Homo sapiens: one gene and its partner. The protein of the gene in region 2 interacts with the protein of the main gene of each other region in a pairwise test. Each region holds a gene or a part of one and is shown on either strand. Other genes may lie near its edges.

Region 1 (5,560 bases), on a different chromosome or scaffold from region 2:
TGGTCAGGGTCTTCTATTGCCTCCCAGAGAGTTTTCCTTTTTCCCCATGGACTACAGGTAAGTAGCACATGAATATTCTCACCATCCAACACCCAACTCCCTGTCCTCCCTCTTGATCTTCTAAGATACTCCTGTTCATGAAAGACTTCCTCCCTGACCTTCCAAACTCCATCATGTCTCCAGTAACTACCCAGTTTCTACTTCCAGTTGCCTTTACAGTACCTGTGTGTGGTCATTATGAAGCTTCCACCAACATTCCTGAACTTGCTTCTCGTTTGTCCTTGGGGACCTGAAATCTGGGCATTTATTGATTTGATTGATGCTAGAAAGGGTGGGAGAATCCAAAACTGCCCCTTTCTTATAAAAACCTAAGAGCCTACTAAGTTGTGTATTGAACAGTCTAAAGTCAGTACAATAAAAACATGAAGCATTGTCTTTTTCGGTCATTGTTTTTTCCTATGCTCTGTTGAATCTCTCTTGAAAATACCTCAGGGAAATTCCACATTTCGTCAGTCACTTCTATGGATACTAAAGTCCAGACCAGCTAAATTTAATTCTGAACAAAATTTGAAACTCAAATTCTCCCTTGCACACAAGCATTGTCCAGGTATCTCCCAGGAGACTGGAGTTGGAAGGGGAATATGATGGGCTCTTTCTCTCATTCACTACCACCCCTCCACCTTCTTCCTCAGTAGCCCTTCCTCCTCCATTGTATTGGGAGATGGAAAAGGGGAGGGAGAATCATTACACATGTGACTGTACCACTAGCCTCCTCTGTTGGCAGGTTCTGCGGCAGGGCTGTCTCTGCTTCTTCTGTGTGGCAGGTTCTGCAGGAGGGCTGTCTTATAGGGTGCTTTTGTGAGTCCTGGAGTATCTTCAAGCATTTTCCTAACAGCATGATTTCCAGACATGGGATGAGCAGTCGGATTTAACCCTTCACGTACTCCCTAAGCTCCTACCTTCGTTGGCACCAGCCATGGCTTCTCGATAATGAGGTCTGTCTGCCCAACAGAAAACCATCCTAAGCACAACACTAGCAAGACTGTGGAAGCTGGTCTTCCTTCTTAGATGTCATCTGCTGTTATGTCTCAATGTCCTGTTCTATCTCTTCAGTTCCTTTTCTTTATTCAACAATAGGCTCAGAGGTTAGAACATCAAGTCTACTACTACAGCAGACATTCTGCTGGGGGATAAAAATGCTGTCTTTCTTTCTTGAAGGAATCTCTAACATCTACAGGCTGTCATTGTGAATCCTGCCCTTTCAATTGACCTCTGTTGTAGGAGAACAACCAGTTTCCCTCCCATGTACAAGATTAGGGGGAGACTACATCATTGTCTTTTAGGATAATAACTTTCCTATCTAAAAAATTCTCACCAAAGTTCAACCTTCCAAATATATAGCTGAACCAGAGAAATAGAGTTCTATTTTTTTTTCTTAGCAAGTCTTGCAGAGATTTTCAGCAGCTTATCCTAAGTTTACTTTAGTATATGGGGATAAGAGGCATCTACTATTTTCATCTTTTGACTTCAGCCAACATCGTAATACAAGAAGAAAATTTGAGTCCAACATCTTCTTACACACTGGGTCCTACCAGAGCTTTCTCAGGAGAATAGAGCGGTGTAAATATCTCAAAATACTATTTAATCTGAGGGAAAAATTCAAATCCATATAAGAAACTTAGGCACGTTGGAGGTATATGGCACTTTCTGGCCACTGCTTCCCATTTTCCTTAAGAATAACTTAGCTGCTTGCCATGGAATTTGATTGTCGCAGACATGGCAGGAACAGAATGGAGAAGGAACTGTGAGTTTTAAGCAAAGGGAGAAGAATTCTGTTTGTTGACTCATCCTTGATTGCTGATGTGGAATGTCCAAAATGCACTCCAAGGGGCTAAATCTGAGGTCCTGCAGTGCCTGTTCCTATAGTACCAATTGGAATGACTAAGTCATGAAATTTTTCCTGGATTCATCCAGCCAGAGCAGTCTCTGTATTTCCTTGATGTCTTTGGGCCACAGGAAGCCAAGGCTCCTCAGGATGGGACTCTCAGGACTAGTGATTCTCAGGGAGGTGCCCTTGTGCTGTAGGGGAAGTGACAAGATCATGATCTTATAGCTACTGTTTGTCATCACGGGACAAATCCTGTGCGTGTGAGAACTGTGGACACCTGATTTCAGGAAGAGGAGAGTGGTGACAGGAGCAATCACTAAGGTAGAAGGGAGATTAATGAGCTCTCCAGGTCTTGTGGGGAGGCTTTCAAGACAGGCAGTCAAGAATGGGGCTGGAGGAAAGCCTAACAGTCATCTATTGTGTTTTATAAAACAGCGGTAACACGATATATTGAATGTCATAGGCAAGGATTTTTTTTCCTTTGAAACTTGCCCAAAATGTGTGATTTATGTTTCTTTCTCAATTAACGCTTCCATCTCCTACCTCCCTCAGCTGCCAATGACTCAGGGTTGCAACCCATGCAGGAAAATGGCTATCATGCTTGCTCTGTTGGGAGGACAAGACTTGCTTATGATAAATACAAGATACAGAGAAATAAACGTTCAGATTTGCAGCAAAGTCTAAACCCCAGTAATTTTTTAACTGAATTTTTCAACAGATTGTGTCCCTCTTCAACTTCACCAGTATGGAATGAGAAAGTACCCATTTCAACCATCATGAGTAATTCCTTCCAATGCACTAGCAATTTGTGTGTTCTAAAGAATGCAAAAGAAATGGACACCTAGTGTAGTCCCGGGGCTAAGCCCAAAAATATCCCTTCAGCAAGAGGCTTCTGCAGGCAGAAGAATATCAGAGAGGGGAGTCAATGACAGGTCTGATCCTTTTCCTCTTCCTCCATTCCCAAGCCACATTCCTAGAGACAATTCACTTTCTCTTAAATATCTCAAAATAAATCATGGAATTCTGCCCCCCACCTCCCACCATGTTTTAAAGAGGGTAAGTTGTAAAGTGCATACTCTGATAAGGAGTTTGTTGTCTAAAAGCCATAAACTATCAAGTACAGGGAGCAATAACAGGCATTTACCATAAACATGTGTTATTTAAAATTACCATTTAACTTAAATTTAATGTTCTGTTATAGTTCTGACTTTAACTTTTTAGAAACAAATAGCAAAGTTCAGGTATTATAATAATAGAGATGAATTCAGTGAAAAATTCATGTCTAAAACTATTATACAATCAAATGGGAAAAATACAAATCAGACTTTATATGTCATCCTACAGAAACCTTAGAATTTATAAGGTTTGTTCCATTAAATTTGATGCACATGATGTTACTACCATCACTAACCTCATCATCAACAATACATTGAACGAATCATGTTCATGACTCACACCAACTATCTTACATATTTTATGCTCATGGACCATTTTATTTGCTTATAATCAGTATCATATATCCCATGGGAAGCTAAATATGGGCAAATTGACCTTTTTCATATTAAGTATGAGTCTTGTGATCTCAACTATTGTATATTCCTTAATGATTTTGTCTGCTTATTCATATAATCCTACCTTAATTCTCTTAAGGGCCCCAACAGCCCCAGACAGGGCTTGTGTCCCATTCTCCATTCATTACCTAATACATCTCACTCCCAGGGTCCAATAGTCTCAGATCACCCAACATCCCCAAGAGTCAGGAGCCAATTACATCTCAACAAACCATGCCCCTGGGGAATATGCAGAGGAATAGGGAAGTGATGTCCAAAAAAAGACATCCTGGGATACCCAGGACGAATCACATGATATCATATCAGACACATAAGTTTACATCTCTGATGTTAGTCCAGTTAACTTTGAAAGGCTCAAGGTCAGGAAATGTGTCATATGCATCTTTACATTCTCCCTCAAAGTGCAAGAGGCAGAGCTCAAACTAAAGCATCCAAACTGAATGAGTGAAAGGAGAAGAAATGACAGGTCCCCAACACACGTGGAGATCTGTCATCAAGACTTCCTGGTTCCCTCTTGCCAGGCATCTTGGCAAGCATGAAGCAAGATGCTGGAGGCCTGGGATGGGAGTGTTTGGCTCTGCCACCTCCCCTTGTTGTGAAAGCAGCATGCCTGGTCTGTGCATCTCTAACCCTGCACAAGATAAAAAGCCTCTTATCTTGGGCTCCTCATCCACAGCCTCCTAGAGAACAGCCTTCTCCTCTTCAGCATCTTCTGTATCTGGCAAGTATCTAGCAGGGGACCCTCAGCTGGGGGTGTCTGGGGAAGATAAGCCCAGATTTTACTAGGGAAGGGGGAAGCAGAGGTGTCAGATGTACAGACAGCAGGAAGAGGACTTCAGAGGGCAGCTGAGGGTAGGGGAAGGGGCAGTGAGCAAGGAACCTCTTTGGGGTGCATGGGAGTCTGTGACTCACCAGAGCCCTGGCTCTCAGCATTCTCTCCACTCTTTTCCTGGGAGATGCATACATGCCCAGTGATATTCTCTGAGAATCATTACTCAATTAGGTGCTTTTGCATCAGTGTTTTTGTGAAGACAGGAGGACTTGGGACCCAGTTAGAAGACACCAGCATTCTTTTCTGGAAGAGGGAAAAATGGAAGGAAATGTCTTACCAGGCCAGTTTTACTTGAGATCAGTTTCTGTTTTTATTCCTGAAGTGCATATCTCAGGAAGCAACTGGTATTAGGAGTAAGGGCTTCATAAAACCATTTGTAGAGGAGACATTAGCCTGGAGCTTTTGCGTTGACCTTTTCCTTTTATCTATCCAGGCTGTCACCTCCTGCCAAGATGTCCTGCCAGCAGAACCAGCAGCAGTGCCAGCCTCTGCCCAAGTGCCCCTCACCCAAGTGCCCCCCAAAGAGCTCAGCACAGTGTCTGCCTCCAGCCTCCTCCTGCTGTGCTCCAAGACCTGGGTGCTGTGGTGGCCCCAGCTCTGAGGGCGGCTGCTGCCTGAGCCACCACAGGTGCTGCAGGTCCCACCGATGCCGGCGCCAGAGCTCCAACTCCTGTGACAGAGGCAGTGGTCAGCAAGATGGTGCCTCCGACTGTGGCTATGGCTCTGGAGGCTGCTGCTGACCTAATTCCTGATGCTGAGACAAGCGACTTTAGAGGAAACAAGTATCTCAAGGAAAAAGGAAAAGCCCCAACTTGTTAGATCCTTTCTTAGACATGCTAATTAACCATTCATTCATGGGGAAGAATTGTGCTTTTTCCAAAAGGCTCCACCCATGTGTTTTCCAAGATCGTGGAAGCCTCCTTTCCTCCTGACAATGTTATCACTTGTGTCTGATTATACAGAGAAATAAAGCTTCTGAACAGCACCTGCATCTAACTTGTCTTTCACTCTGCTCCACAGAAGGCTGCTCAGTGGGTCTCCCCTCCCTCAGCTCCTGAAGGTCTAGCACACCCTGCATAGAGAATAATACTGGCTTGTGGCTGGAAAATTAAACGTTCATATTTTTCTTCATGCAGGGAGTCCCTGTGGGAGATTTGAGTATAGAAGTGTAGGAGAAAGGGGAGGTGTTGAGAGAGGTTGGTGAAAATCTCTTAAAAAAGGCCTAAGATCAGAGCAGAACTGAAGGAAATAGAGACACAAAAAACCCTT
Region 2 (7,742 bases):
AAAAGGGCTCAGAAGCAAAGTTGAAATGACCGAAGTTGAAACACTATGACTATCAATAGAATACCTAGGATAGATTAAAAGCAAAAGCTACTACATAAGCTTTAATCTCTGACTGTGCTCATCATAGTAAAATAATTGATCCCTTTGAAAGGTATTTGTAAAACAACTGTTGATATAAAAATAAAAATGTAGAGATGAAACTCTAACATTTTATTTGGAGAGAAAGAATTGCAGCTGGGGGCATATACACAGATCAGGTGGTTTTCTTCATGTCTGAGGAACAAAGAGAAGGTTGGGGGTTTTATGAAAAAGAGAAATGTTACCTATTGCTTGTTGAGAAAGCTCTCTGGCACTAGTAAGGTTCTGGGGAGCTGGCAAGCTCCAAATGGTGAGCAACGGCAGTGGCCAAAATTAATCCTAAAGTTGCAGCAAGCCATCTCAGCAGTCTTAGATAAAACTGGTTTCAGGCTGGGTGCAGTGGCTTACGCCTGTAATCCCAGTACTCTGGGAGGCTGAGGTGGGCAGATCACTTGAGGTCAGGAGTTCGAGACCAGCCTGGCCAACATGGTGAAACCACATCTCTACTAAAAATACAAAAATTAGCTGGACGTGGTGGCGCATGCCTGTAATGCCAGCTACTCTAGAGTCTGAGGCAGGAGAATCATTCGAACCCGGGAGGCGGAGGTTGCAGTGATCCAAGACTGCGCCACTGCACTCCAGCCTGGGCAACAGAGCAAGACTCCATCTCAAAGAAAAAAAAAAGCATCCTACTGATTCTAGAGATCTTTTTAAAAATATAGCAACCAGTCATCTCATGCTTTTTCAATCTTAGATTCTGTTCCTTCTCTTCTAATAAATTTTCATTATTTATTGCTTAAAATAGCTTTTCACTGGTTTGTCCAAGATAAGCATTAATTCCCTCAGTCTCTTTTCTCTCTTCCCCACCCCAGTTGTTTTTGATCTATGTTTCTAATATCCCTATGAATTACTTGGGATGACAATTTAAGAATATTGTAAGACAACACTTTTTTTTTTTTTTTTGAGATGGAGTTTCGCTCTTGTCGCCCAGGCTGGAGTGCGATGGCGCGATCTCTGCTCACGGCAACCTCCGCCTCCCAAGTTCAAGCAATTCTGCCTCAGCCTCCCAAGTAGCTGGGATTACAGGCATGTGCCACCACGCCTGGCTAATTTTTGTATTTTTAGCAGAGACGGGGTTTCTCCATGTTGGTCAGGCTGGTCTCGAACTCCCGACCTCAGGTGATCCACCCGCCTCAGCTTCCCAAAGTGCTGGGATTACAGGCGTGAGCCACCGCGCCTGGCTGTACTAAGCCACTTTCAAAGAATAAATAAATTTTGGTTCCAATTACATTTCCTCTACGGTTTATTTTACATATTAACTCCAAGAATTAAATATTTTCATATTACAATAGTAAGAAAGTGCTGATGTTACTTTAATAAGTCATTAAATTATTATAAACAACTTTTTTTTTTGTTTTTGAGACAGGGTCTCACTCTGCACCCAGATGCTGGAGTGCAGTGGCACAATCATGGCTCACTGCAGCTTTGACCTCCTGGGCTCAAGTGATCCTCCCACCTCGGCCTCCTGAGTAGCTGGGACTACAGGCATGCACCACTTCTGGCTAATTTTTAAAATTTTTTGTAGAGACTGGGTCCCACTATGTTACCTAGGCTGGAAGAATTTTTTCCTATTTATTTAGTTAGTTTTTGAGACGGAGTTTCGCCCTTGTTGCCCAGTCTGGGGTGCAATGGTGCAATCTCGGCTCACCGCAACCCCACCTCCCAGGTACAAGTGATTCTCCTGCCTCAGCCTCCCGAGTATCTGGAATTACAGGCATGCGCCACCACGCCCGGCTACTTTTGTACTTTTAGTAGGGACGGGGTTTCGCCATGTTGGTCAAGCTGGTCTCAAACTCCTGACCTCAGGTGATCTGCCCGTCTCGGCCTTCCAAAGTGCTGGGATTACAAGTGTGAGCCACCGCACCGGGCCAGAATTTTTTTTTTAGTGTACCACTGTGCTGATTGGGAATTAACAATGACAGGCAAAATTTACAAGCTTTTATTAATTAATGTGCCAGGTGCAATTCTAAGTGTCATATGTGTGATAATTTATTTAATTCTTTTTTTGCTTGTTTTTTGTTTTTCTTTTTTTGAGATACAGTCTTGCTGTGTTGCCCAGACTGGAGTGCAGTGATGCAGTCTCGGCTCACTGCAACCTCCACCTCCTGGGTTCAAGTGATTCTCCTGCCTCAGCCTCCCAAATAGCTGGGATTACAGGCGTGGGCCATTGTGCCCGGCCAATTCATTTAATTCTCAAAAAAAAAAAATCTTAAGTATTTGTTACATTTTTTAAATGATAAAAGTGAGGCTGAGTTTAAGTAACTTATCTGTTAAGATGATCACACAGCTACTAGTAATAAAGTACGATTCAAAGGCAGGCTATCTGGCCCCTTTGTGTAGACTTGGTCATAATGCTGTGACTTTGTATTAGCCGGGAGTCCTGAATTATCAAAAGATTTACAATAAATGACACTATCTTGTTGAACAATGAAGACTTTTTTTTCCTAAATTTTCGACAACCCTCGAAATCATGGCAGCATACTGAGGTGAGCGTTTTCATTGGGACATGAACCTGTCATTCCTGCCACTATCAGGAAAAAGAAATGTTACCCAATTTTAATCTTTGAACAGTATCAATGCCAAAAAATTGTGAAAAAGATAATCAGAAAATAGATGACAAGTGGCTACTGAGCTTACCATTTAAAGTTTCTGTCAGACCTTCAAATTTTCTCTATGGAGCCCTTCTCCACGAACTCAGGGTAGTCAGTGCTTGTAATTTACAGCAGTCATTAAAATGATGACATTACATGTAATTCACTTATTTCCAAAGAGTAACTGAGGACCTAAAAAATGTAGGTGATATTAGGCATATCCATGACATACAGCACTATGCAATATGCAAAGGCTTACACAGAACTCTCATCAATCCGTGAACATGCTTTTGTCTTAGATCAAGCTTGTCCAACCTGCAGCCCTTGGGGGTTGCATGCGGCCCAGGACGGCTTTGAATGCAGCCCAACACATATTTGTAAATTTTCTTAAAACGTTATGAGATTTTTTTGGCGTTTTGGTTTTTTCGTTTGTTTTAGCTCATCAGCTATTGTTACTGTTAGCGTATTTTATGTGTGGCCCAAGCCAATTCTTCCAATGTGGCCCCGGGAAGCCAAAAGATTGGCCACCCCTGCATTAGATGGTTAACGTCTGATTTTCATTGAATAAACCTGTGCCTTTACCATACCACAGAAGTAAAACGGGGCTCAATGTGTTTTTTAAAAATCACATTATCTGTATTTCCAGACATAAGGTAAGTATTTCACCAACTTTCATCCAAACTAACATCCTCAATTGTAATCCCACTAAGAACCGCCAGGGCGAGACGAAAGCGGAATCGCTTCCATCTTTACGTGGAGTCCGGGAAATGGTTCAGCACCATGACATCCGCCGAAGACGTAGGTGTAGACGAGGAACAAAAGAGAAGACCCCTCGTGGAGGTGGCCTGTGGGGCCCGCCCTCACCGGGCGCCATCTGTCCCTGATTCTGCTCCCCGCAGGGGCCGCAGCGGGTGCGCCCCGCGATAGAGCGGGCTGTGGAGGGAGCCTCCATGGAGTCTCCATCAACCATTCCGGACCAGGAGACGGTGGCAGGCAGTAAAAAGGCCTAGGCAGGGCCAGCGCCCCGGGCTGCTAGCACAGGACGGCGGCGCCCAGGGACGCCCCAGGGCAGGCCTCAGCCCCTCCAACCCGCGAGAGCCCAGCTCCAAGGGAGCCTGCAGCTCCCTCCATCTTGGTTGATGGAGGCGGGGAGCTGCGTCTGGGTGTCTCCACCGTCGCGCCCGACCAGTACTGCCCCGCGGACGCAGACGCCGGCAGCTGGGGCTGTTCCCTTGTCCGAATGGCAGAGCCCAGTCGGGGCTTCCGGGACAAGTCCTGGCCCCACGGGGTTTGGTTTTGAGGGGTCCCAAGTTCCCACAGTTGTCCCGACAAAATGGAGGACGTCGTCTCCTCCTGCTGCAGCCATGGCGGGAGGTGGGGGACTATTCCCCACGGGGCGCGGCGAGGGTGGAAGGGCCTCCACTGACCGCAGCGCACTCAAGACTCCAGTTCAACCGCGGCCCCGAAAGCTCACTTGGCCCCGCTCCAGCACCTCCCCGGCCTCGCCCCTCTTGGGGGCCTTCAAGGAACTGGACAGGGAGGGCGCTGGGGCATCCAGGCCGCCGCTCTCCTCGAGCAGAGGCGTTGGGAGCCGCTGCCGCAGCTTGGGCCCCCGGGCTCGGGCGAGGGCAGGCAGCCCCGCCGGAGTCTCCCGGGCTGTGTAGGTCCCGGAGAGCCCCGGGCCCCGAGGGGCCGAAGCGGGCCGCTACGACGGGCGGCGAATCTCGGGCTCCTGACCCTGGCGGACCCGGTAGCTGGGGGCGGGAGACCGGCGGGGAGACAACCCGACCGGGAGTTGAGGGCTGGCAGGCGGGAGTGGAACTGCAGGGCCGCGGGTGTGGCCCGCACCTGACGGACAGCTCTTCGGCCACCCCACCGAGGGGGCGCCCTGAAGGACGGCCGTCGGAGCCAATGGGCGTGCCCAAGGCGCCCAGGCTCGTCTCCCTCGCCAGCCAACGAGCGCACGGAGGGTGGGGCCTCCTCGGGCTCTGCTGCGCCGTCCCCTGCTTCTCCGCCTCCTCACCAGCGCGAAAAGCCGGGACTGGACCTCGCGGAGTTGTGCTTGTCGCCGAAGCGGGGTGGGCTTGTTCGTTCCGCGCAGCCGCAGCCAGAACCGGGTGACGCTTATCCCCGCTGTCTTTCCAGTCCAGGGCCGCTGAGAGTGGGGGTGGCTGGGAGCAGCGCAGCCTCCGGAGGAGGAGGCGGAGGCCGAGGTGAGTGGGGAGGCGGAGATGGGTGAGAGCAGCCTCCGGAGGCTCCCACCGACCCGGGATTAATACCCCGCGGCGCGGCCGCCGTCGCCGTTGCCGCTTCGGGGCCTCGAGGGCAGCTCGGGGCTGCCCTCCTGTCACCGGCGCTTTTGCGTCCGGCCTGAGGGGCTGGGAGAGTGCGAGCGAGGCCGGGAGGGTTGGGTGAGGCGGTCGCCAGCGGCGGAGGTCGCGGGGCCGGCGGGGAGGCGGGGTGGCGGGGCGGGTTGCCGGCCGCCCGGGGAGGTCGCGGGGCATTTTTCTTTCTCTCCTGCCGCATAGTGGCGGGGGGCGGGTTGGGCGAGGGAGGGGCGCCCCGGCCGGGTCTTCGCTGTCAGGACCGCGCTGCCACCCTGCCGCCGGAGCCGAGGTCCCCAGGTTTTTCGGGCGAGGGCTTCTGCCTCTGCCCCGCTGGGTCCCCTCCTTCGCTCATCTTTTCCCAGGCGCTGCGCGGCTTTTACTCTTTGCTGCTGATCTGGGCGAGTTTAATGGCGGATCTGGGGCCCTGTCGTCGACTGCTGGGGCCCCAGGGCAACTTCTTGAGGCAACTGTGGGCCCAGAGGTGATGCGCGCCGCCCGTTACCTCTGAAATGGTGCTTGGAGTGACAGAGATGACGCTGGGTGGGCAAATTTAGGAGGGAATACAAATCCCTTGCTGGCGTCGAGACGACGTTTACCCTTCCCTCTCCCGTCCTGGGAGCAGGCCTCGGATCCCCGAGCCCACTGCATCCCCAGTACTGCAGTTGGACGAAGCACTTTTAGCTTTGTCTCGTCGTTGCGGTTCCTATAGTTCTTTTTTTTCAACTTAGTTTCTCGGTAACATTAGGGTGGGGGAGGGTAGCAGAGCCCAGGAACTCCTTGGCCTCTTACCCCTTTGCCACCTCACGGTGTTGAGTTGGTTGTGCATCCAGATTGGTTGTACCGAAATTGGTTTTCAATTCTCATTCTAGGACCAGGAATCACCTTCAAGCCTATGTCGTGAGGCTTTGGCAGAAATTAAGAAGGAAATATCTCCATTGTGAGTTGTTTTTTTTTTTTTACCCCGCTTTGCTGTCTAATATAATTAGTGCAGTAGTAGGGTGTTCTTCCTGAGGGATTTGCCTTTGTGTTATCTTGAAGGCCTTGGCCTTCAAGCTAATTGCTTGGGTGCCCCTGTCCCCAGAGCCAAGCCATGGTAGTCCCTGGGAAGGCACGGGGAGTGCTGACATTTATACCACTGGAACTCTCTCAAGTTCCAGAACAAGATTTAAAGTTAGCTCTCTTTTAAGTGCCTTGAATTTAACAATTTTTTCTTTTCCAGTAGATTGGAAAAACTTTTTTACTGTTGGATTAAAAAGAAACACTACTGAATAATCTGTTGTTTTGACGTTGATATTTGCCTTGTATTTGAGGAAGACTGTTATTTATGTACCCTGACAGTCCTCCAGCTAGCATCACACGAGGAGATAACATAAACTAGTTGTCAAACTATTCCTAATTCTAAGATTGACCACCGAATCTGAGTGGCCTGATCTCTCTCTGTTAGGAAGTTAATGTTTGTTTTTGTTTTTTCGGGTTTTTTTTTTTTGCTACTAGACAGTGATCTATGTGTTCATTTTGGTACAGTACAAATGCCCTTTCTCTGTCAGCTATTCACTTAATGCTTTTAACACCAATCCTTGTGTGAATAATTTCATTAGGAGTGACAAAATGATTTTTTTTTCTTTAACAAGCTTTACTTCTATTTTTATTATCTGGGATTCAGTTCTTGCCAATTTTGTCCTTTCAACCCTGATCAAACAGTTTTCCATTGCTCATCAAAAACAAACTTGTGATTAGCTTATCTCCCATAGTAGTATTCCTGCCTTCCTTTTACCCTAGTTGCTTTCTACTAACTTATTTGCTCTTATTTTCTTACATTTCACAGCATATCTCTTTAATTAGTTAAACTTAGGACTGTGGCAGGATGTGGTAGGTAGGTAAAGTGGCTGGGCACAGTGGCTCATGCCTGTCATCCAACCACTTTGGGAGGCTGAGGTGGGTGGATAGCTTGAGAGCTTGAGCCCAGGAGTTCCAGTGTGGACAACATGGCAAAACTCTTTCTCTACAAAAAATACAAAAATTAGCTGAGCATGGTGGCACATGCCTGTAGTCCCAGCTACTCAGAAAGCTGAGGTGGGAGGATCGCTTGAGTTCAGGAGGTTGAAGCTGCAGTGAGCAGTGATCACACCACTATACTCCAGCCTGGGCAACAAAGAGAGAGTCTGTCTCAAAAAAAATGGGTAAAGTGGCTCTGGGCACTGTGACTCACTCCTGTAATCCCAGCACTCTGAGAGGCCAAGCTGGGAGGATTGTTTGAGCCCAGGGGGTTGAGTCTGCAGTGAACTGTGTTTGTGCCATAGCATTCCAGGCTGGGCGACAGAGCCATACCCTGTCTTAAGAAAAAAAAAAAAGCCTGGTCCATAAGGTTTGAGACACACACACACACACACACACACACACGTGCGCATATACATGCATATAGTTAGTGGGAGATACAATTCCCCCCCCCCCACCTGAGATATAATCCTTATCCTCTTTATTTTTTCCTTTATTTCTTGAGATTTTTCTCAGCTTTATCTTTCAATTCTTATTGCTGAATTTTTCCTTTTTGCCACTAAGCTTTTAATTTCCAGCAGTTCTTTTTATATTAGAAGTGTTGGCTGGGCATGGTGGCTCACACCTGTAATCCCAGCACTTTGGGAGGCCGAGGTGGGTGGATCACCTGAGGTCAGAAGTTCGAGACTAG

Evidence for each region.
Region 1: the proteins of ZMYM5 (region 2) and LCE3B interact in binary tests that used the Homo sapiens proteins (3 or more experiments, as listed by UniProt).

Annotation. Positions count from the first base shown.
Region 1 is NC_000001.11:152,609,068-152,614,627, forward strand, and holds LCE3B (late cornified envelope protein 3B), read left to right. Parts: upstream 1-4,743; coding exon 4,744-5,031; downstream 5,032-5,560. UniProt on the Homo sapiens protein: A structural component of the cornified envelope of the stratum corneum involved in innate cutaneous host defense.
Region 2 is NC_000013.11:19,860,650-19,868,391, reverse strand, and holds the start of ZMYM5 (zinc finger MYM-type protein 5), read left to right. Parts: upstream 1-4,742; 5' UTR 4,743-4,942; intron 4,943-5,022; exon of another isoform or gene 5,023-5,565; coding exon of another isoform or gene 5,566-5,568; intron 5,569-5,925; coding exon of another isoform or gene 5,926-5,993; intron 5,994-7,742. UniProt on the Homo sapiens protein: Functions as a transcriptional regulator.